Linked DNA regions of Homo sapiens. The protein of the gene in region 1 interacts with the protein of each later gene in a pairwise test. Each region holds a gene or a part of one and is shown in the gene's direction. Other genes may lie near its edges.

What was found.
Region 2: the proteins of ZNF148 (region 1) and ZMYND12 interact in binary tests that used the Homo sapiens proteins (3 or more experiments, as listed by UniProt).

What each region holds. Positions count from the first base shown.
Region 1 is NC_000003.12:125,309,244-125,313,072, reverse strand, and holds part of ZNF148 (zinc finger protein 148), read left to right. Parts: intron 1-1,575; exon of another isoform or gene 1,576-2,210; intron 2,211-3,829. UniProt on the Homo sapiens protein: Involved in transcriptional regulation. Represses the transcription of a number of genes including gastrin, stromelysin and enolase. Binds to the G-rich box in the enhancer region of these genes.
Region 2 is NC_000001.11:42,449,353-42,453,181, reverse strand, and holds part of ZMYND12 (zinc finger MYND domain-containing protein 12), read left to right. Parts: intron 1-3,122; coding exon 3,123-3,264; intron 3,265-3,829. UniProt on the Homo sapiens protein: Required for sperm flagellum function and male fertility.

The sequences.
Region 1 (3,829 bases):
TTAAATTTTAAATGCTTAATTTTAAAAGATATTTTATCTAACTTCTAGGTTTCTCCTTAAAGAGTAAAACATTTGAATCTTCAACGTAACTAGAAAAATATCACACATTCAAGGGTTTTTCCTACAAATTCTGTAATTCTTGCCTTCTTAAATTTTTCTAATATGCTCCTATTCTCTGTTCTCTTTGTATCCTCCGCTTGCTTGATCTGTTTATCTTTTTAAAGTATATCAGCCCTTTACTCTTTCCTATCTACCTCAGACGTCATTTAAGATGTTTCATAAGCACCCATATGTTTTTCCTTCTTCTACCTTTATTTTTACCCAATAATCAGTGAAACCACAACCATCATGTAAATTCTTGTCTCTTCTTTCTATGATATCAAACCTGGGTTCCTTTCAGTTCATCTAACATGTACTTTTTCTTTTGCTTTAGGACTTTAATATATCCTGCTTGAGATATTACCCTCAGTCATACTTCATACCTGTTTTATAACCTCTAGATAGTGCTCCATCATCATCAGCCTGTCACTTCTCTTGACTCTAGGTTGAGTCCCTGTGATAGGGACTTGTGATTTACTTGTACGATGCTTCTCTGATGGATTGTAGACTCCATAAGGACAGGAGTTTTGTCTTACTTTTCACTGTAGTCCAGGTGTTGGCACATGGTGTGAATGAGCGGATAACTACTTGTAGTTGTGCTCTGATACATACATTCACCAGCTTTACCTAGCCCATTGCAGTAACTTTTTCCTCTTTAGCCTGATGATGTAATGGATTACATTAGTTGATTTTTGAATATGGAAGCAACTTTCATACCTGGAATAAATCCTGCTTGTTTGTGGTATATAGTTCTTTTTAGATGTGGTTGGATTTGATTTGATCATATTTTGAGGATTTTTACATTTGTGTTCATGAGAAATATTAGTCTATAGTTTTCTTGATGTCTTTGTCTGTTTTTGGTATTAGGGTAATGCTGGTCTCATAGAATAAATTAGCAAGTATTCCCTCTGCTTATATCTTCTGGAAGAGATTGTAGAGAACTGATGTAATTTCTTCCTTAAATGTTTGGTAGAATTCACCAGTGAACTGCTTTGGGTCTGGTGCTTTCTGTTTTGGAAAGTTATTGTTGATTTGATTTCTCCTATAAATATAGGTCTCTTCAGATTATCTGATTCTTCTTGTGTGAGTTTTGACAGATTGTGTCTTCCAAGGAATTGGTCTATTTTGATAAAGTTGTCAAATTTGTGGGAACAAAGTTCATAGTATTGTTTTATTATCCTTTTAATGTCCAGGGGTTTATAGTGATGTCCTCTCTTTGATTTCTGATATTAGTAATTTGTGTTTTCTCTTTTTTTCTTTTTTTCTTGTCTTAAGACAGTAATTTAAAAAAATTACTGTCTTAACAATTCCCTTTTTTTTGGTGTATCATTTACTAAGTTAAATTATATAGGGTTTTTTGGGGTCTGTAATTGATGTACATTTGATTTTAAAAAGACACTGTCTTATATCAGGACAAAGCAGATTTACATACAACTATCAGCAGAAAAAATTTCTGTGTGATCTGAACAGAGGTACTCTTTTCTTTGATCATAAGAAAATGCAGTACTTTTAGAAGGTAAAGCTATTAAGATTACAGAAGTTTTACCAAAATGCTTTAAGCAAAAACTCTTTTAAGAAAAAGGTATGAGTTCTCATTTTCTATTCTTAGCATAAATTTTAATACTTTCTAATAGAACCTAACTCTTCTGAATGCCTTTCAGCATCATCCAAAGCTTGAACTTCTATTTCTGGATTAAAAATTCATTCACAAATGAGCTGTGCAATACGATCACTTTTTCTGACTTTAAACTTTTTTTTGCCAAAATTAAACAGTACAGCACCAACATTTCCTCAGTAATCTTCATCTATCAATAAAGTGTTTTGCAGCTAATCCAAACCATGGAGCTACTCTTCTGTAACATCCAGAAGGAAGAGCTATCTGAATGTCCATTTTCCCTAGAGCTTTCTCCATAGGTGGTATTGTATCATCATAGGCACCGTTGAGGTCATAGCCTGTGGCCTGTGTGGATCCCTGAGTCAGGGTTGTGGCCTGCTCAGAGAATGGGGCAAAACGGAGCTGCATGCTGCCTTCCTCTGCAAACCAGCCTGTTTGCTGGGGGTAACGGTGGGTGTCTCTTCAGAGCAGGGCATGGCAGAGTGAAAATGCGAGCAGAGGAGAGAGCAACAATTTTTAAGTGTCCATTTTAGTAGTGCAAACTATATTGACATTGTTGTACAACAGATCTCTAGAACTTTTTCATCTTGCAAAACTGAAACTGAAACTCATGTTCGAACAACTCTGCATTTCCCCCTGCCCAGTGGTAGAGGCTTGCTTATTTTATTGATATTTTCAAAGAAACAGCTTTTGATTTTCTTGATTTTTTTCCCTCTATTTCCTATTTTCAGTTTCATTTATTTCTGCTCTAATTTTTATAATTTTTTTCTGCTTGTTTCGGATTTAATTTGCTCTTCTTTTTCTACTTTCCTAAAGTGGAAGCGTATTCATTTTAGATTTTTTGTTTCTAATATATGCATTCATACTATAAATTTTCCTCTAAGCACTGCATTAGCTACATTGCATAGATTTTGATAGTTGTATTTTTATTTTCATTTAGTTCAATATATTTTAAAATTTCTGTTAAGATTTCTTCTTTGGACTGGGTGTGGTGCCTCACGCCTATAATCTCAGCACTTTGGGAGGCTAAAGTGGCGGATTACTTGAGCTCAGGAGTTTGAGACTAGCTTGGGCAACATGACAAAACCCCATCTCTACTAAAAATACAAAAATTAGCCGGGCATGGTGGCATGCACCTGTAATCCCAGCTATGTGGGAGGCTGAGGCATAAGAATCACTTGAACTCCAGAGGCAGAGGTTGCAGTGAGCCAAGATTGTGCCACTGCACTCCAGCCTGGGTGACAGAGTGAAACTCTGTCTTTAAAAAAAAAAAAAAAAAAAAAAATTCTTTGAACCATTATTGTTTAGAAGTGTGTTGTTTAATATCCAAGTATTTTGAGATATTTTCTAGCTACCATTCTGTTATTAGTTGTAGTTTAATTCTGTTGTGGTCTTAGAGCAGACGCCATATGATTGCTATTCTCTTAAGTTTGTTAGATTGTATTTTATGGCCCAGAATGTTGTCCACCTTGGTGAAATGTTACGTGCGAGCTTGAAAAGAATGTGCATTCTGTTTTTGTTGGATGAGGTAGTCTATAGATTGCAATAGACTGGCATTTTTATTGGACTGACAGTAGCCTGCGCCTTCTCCAGTGTATCTTTCAGATAGTTTCTACAGTGATCTTTCCAAACGAGATGTATACATGTCATTCCCTTACTGAAACTTCCCCAGTGGTTCCTCATTACTAAACAGCTAAAATGTACTTTTTTGCATGGGCGGAAATAGCCGTCATAATCCCGTCCCTTATCCAACTTTTTTTTTTAACTGTAGTTCAGCCCCTTTCGCCACCATTTTATGCTTTAAGCATATCAAATTAATTTAGTTGCCTAGGTCCACTATGGGTTTTTTCTGTTACTTTTGTTCATGTCGTATATGCCTATAATATTATTTATTTGGCAATTTACTGTTACTCATGTTTCACCTTAAAAGATGTCTCTTTCTTGTGATTTTTCATTATGGTAACTATAATAACTTTGCATTTCTTTGCTTGCAAGACTGTCTTGTCATTATATTTTAAGGTATTTTTTTCTGTATCCTGCCTTTAAATTTTGTGTTCTCAATACCTGGGTTATAGTAGGCAATCAGATTTTTTTTGAGTGAAAATATACATTCTG
Region 2 (3,829 bases), on another chromosome or scaffold:
TCTTTGGGTCTTGCAGATTTCAAGATTTTTTGATAAAACAAAACTGAGGTTGTTGTTCTATAGGTTTTGATGGTCGAATGTAAAGCATCTAGTACCCTTCCTGGAACCATGTTGGCACACAGTAAATGTTCCTTTTCATCATCCCAAGTTTAAGGAACAAGAAAGTCAGTCTGAATTTGTGAAAGTTTTTTTCTGCAAAAGAATTTTTTTCCTGATTATAATTGCAATTCATGCTCACTGCAGAAAACCTGAAAATATAAAAAATCAAGAAGAAAAATAAGCCATAGTCCCACAACCCAGGGATTAATAACCTGAAATTTTGGTGAATTTCCTTCTTTTCTCTGAATACATTTATTTTATATATTGTGTGTAATCTTGTGCATATTGCTCTATAGTGGATTATGACCATTCTCAGAGAATAGCACATTTTTATTTACTTTAGAGACACAGTAGAACTTTTATTTTTTTATTATTTTTTTGAGACGGAGTCTTGCTCTGTCACCCAGGCTGGAGCGCAGTGGCACCATCTTGGCTCACTGCAACCTCTGTCTCCCGGGTTCAAGCAATTCTCTTGCCTCAGCCTCCCAAGTAGCTGGGATTACAGGGATGCGCCACCACGCCTGGCTAATTTTTTTGTATTTTTAGTAGAGACGGTGTTTCACCATATTGGTCAGGCTGGTCTCGAATTCCTGACCTTGTGATCCGCCCTCCTCGGCCTCCCAAAGTGCTGGGATTACAGGACAGTAGAACATTTTTAAGAAAAGGTAATTTTATGGAAGTACATACTAAAACATTGGTGACAAGTAAAAGAGACTTCAGTACCATAGGTTTGCATGAATTTAAATGTCTTTAGTCAGGGCGTACATTCTGTAATTCACTACAAATACTATTGCTTCCTGTTCTTGAATACCACTTCACCATTCGTTTTCTTCTCCTGGCCAGTGACGGCATTTAAATTTGCGCTTCATATGTCAAACAAAAGGAAAAATTATTGCAAAAAATATTGCAGATCACTAAGAAAACAAACAGTGAAGTGGTATTCAATAATAGGAAGCTATAGGATCAGTGGTGAATTGTAGAATGAATGCCCTACCTAAAGATATTCAAATTCAGCTTAAAAAAAAACATGATAATAGCCAAACAAAACATGTGGCTCACAAGCTACTTAATTGTGAGCCCTGATTGAAAGCATTTATCCATTCCTACTTTATCCCTGACCCTGTGTTAGGTGTTACAGGTGGGACAGATCAATAAGCAGGGAGCCCGCAAATATATAAATAAAGCTCACTTTATTTAGAAAGGCAAGATATGTTAGTGGCTCTCAGTGGAACAAAAGTTCAGGCATCTAAGTTAACATTTCCATTGCTTACAAGCCCCACTTGATAAATTCCCTGTGGAACTCAGCTATATCCTGGCTAAGTGCTTTTATTGATCTGTTTATAATAATTCTCTACCTCCCCAAAAACATTTTAAATGGTTTCTGTCATTTCTTTGGTAGCAGTCACAACTTGTAAAGAATATACTTTAATTGCATTTCTATTGTCCAAGAAGGTGGCAATATTGTCCAAGAAGGTGCTTGAACATGGCTATATATTGTCTGTGGCTGCTTTTGTGCTACAACAGCAGAGTTGAGTAGTTGCAACAGAGATCCTATAGCTCTCAAGCCTAAAATATTTATCTGACCCTTTACAGAAAAGCTTTTCTGATCCCTCCTCTAGATTATTGTTACCTGTTTTGAAATATGTATAAATGGAATCAAACAGTTAACTTACATTTAAGTGAAAATGTGTAATAAGCAATAGAAATGCAAAAACCCATGACTATGCATCTAACAACAGAGCCTCAAAATACATGCAGCAAAAACAGACAGAACTGGGGAGAAAAATAGACAATTTAATAATAATGGTTGAAGACTTCAATATCCTACCTTCAGTGATGAACAGAACAACTAGATGAAAGATCCAGTATCCCACTCTCAGTAATGAATAGAACAACTAGATAGAAGATCAAATATCCCACTTTCAGTAATGCATAGAACAATTAGACAGATCAGCAAGGAAATATAAGACTTGAATCACGCTATAAACCAACTAGACCTAACAGGTATCTGTAGAACACCATTCAATAACATGAGAATGCCTATTCTTCTCTAGTGCGTATAGAACATTATTCAGGATAGAACATATATTAGACCATAAAATAAATCTCAATAAATTTATAGAGATTGATTTCATACAGAGTATGTTCTCCACCTACATGGAATGAAATTAGTAGTCAATAACAAGGAAATTTGGTAAATTTACAAATATGTAGAAATAACACACTCTTAACCAATGAGTCACAGAAGAAATTACAAAGGAAATTAGAAAATGCTTTGAGATAAATGAAAACAAAAACAACATACTAAAACTTAGATGCTGGCAAAGCAGTACTCAGAGGTTACTGTATGAATTTAGTACTCATATGAATTTATACTAATATACATTACATTGAAAAGAAGATCTCAAATCAGTAACCTAGCATTTCATCTTAAGAAACTAGAAAAAGAAGAGCAAACTAAAACATATTTATAAACTCCTTTATGCACAGCCCTGTGTTGGGTATAGACACAAGCTAGCAGAAGAAAGGAAAATTAAAGATTATAGCAGAGATAAAACAGAGAATAAAGAAACTACAGAGAGAACTGATGAGACCAAAAGTTGGCTCCTTGAAAAGACCAACAAAATTGACAAACCTTTAGCTAGGTTGACTGGCCTAGAAAAGAAGATTCAGATTACTAAAATCAGAAATGAAAGTGAGGACATTACTACCAACCTTGCAGAAATAAAAGAGATTATAAGAGAACACTATGAGCAATTGCATGCCAGCATCCCTGTGTGACTTCAGAATGTGAATGTGTGCCTGCAGAAACAACATACTCTCCAATCCCAACACAGTTTATACATCATCAAATAACCACATGAAAGGAAAGAGATTTGAGTCTCAGAAATGGCTTTGAGCTCCCTGCCTGGTTTGTATTTGGCTTACTTTTCTGGTGTCTAGGGATAGGCCAGTAGGAGGGTTAATGGAATCTTAAGTCATGCCAAATATAAAGATCATAAAGTCTATGTTTCCGTTGTCAGTGGGGTGGTACATCAGAAGGCTGACTGGGACAGCATCCATGAGAAAATATGTCAGCTCTTGATTCCACTGCGCACTTCCATGCCCTTCTACAATTCAGAGGAAGAACGGCAGCATGGCCTGCAGCAGCTGCAGCAGCGGCAGGTAGGGCCTACGGCACTTTCCAAGGTTAAGTCGTAGGTGCGGTGAAGCTGCCCAAGACAAGGCTCGAACTGTGTTGGGATCACTAAATTGTAACCTCACGGAGGGCAGAGACTTTGTTTTATATCTTTTTAAGTCCTCAACACCATCCAGTCTGTTGTTTTCCACATTTACTAAATACTTACTGTATTAGTCTGCTAGCACTGTCACAATCAAATATCACAAACTGGGTGGCTCAAACAGCATACATTTATTTCCTCACAGCTCTGGAGGCTGGGAAGTCCAAGATCAAGGGGTCAGCAGGTTTGGTTTCTTCTGAGGCCTCTCTTCCTGGCTTTCAGATGGCTGCCTTCCTACAGTGTCTTCACATGGTCCTTTGTGTGCAAGCATGCCTGGTATCTCTTTGTGTGTCCAATTTCCTCTTTTTATAAAGACACAAGTCAGATTAGGTTAGGGCCCACCCTAATGGCCTCATTCTAACTTAATCACCACTCTACAGGCCCTAGCTCCAATTATAGTCATGTGACAGACTGCAGGATAGGGCTTCAACACATGAATTTTGGCAGGG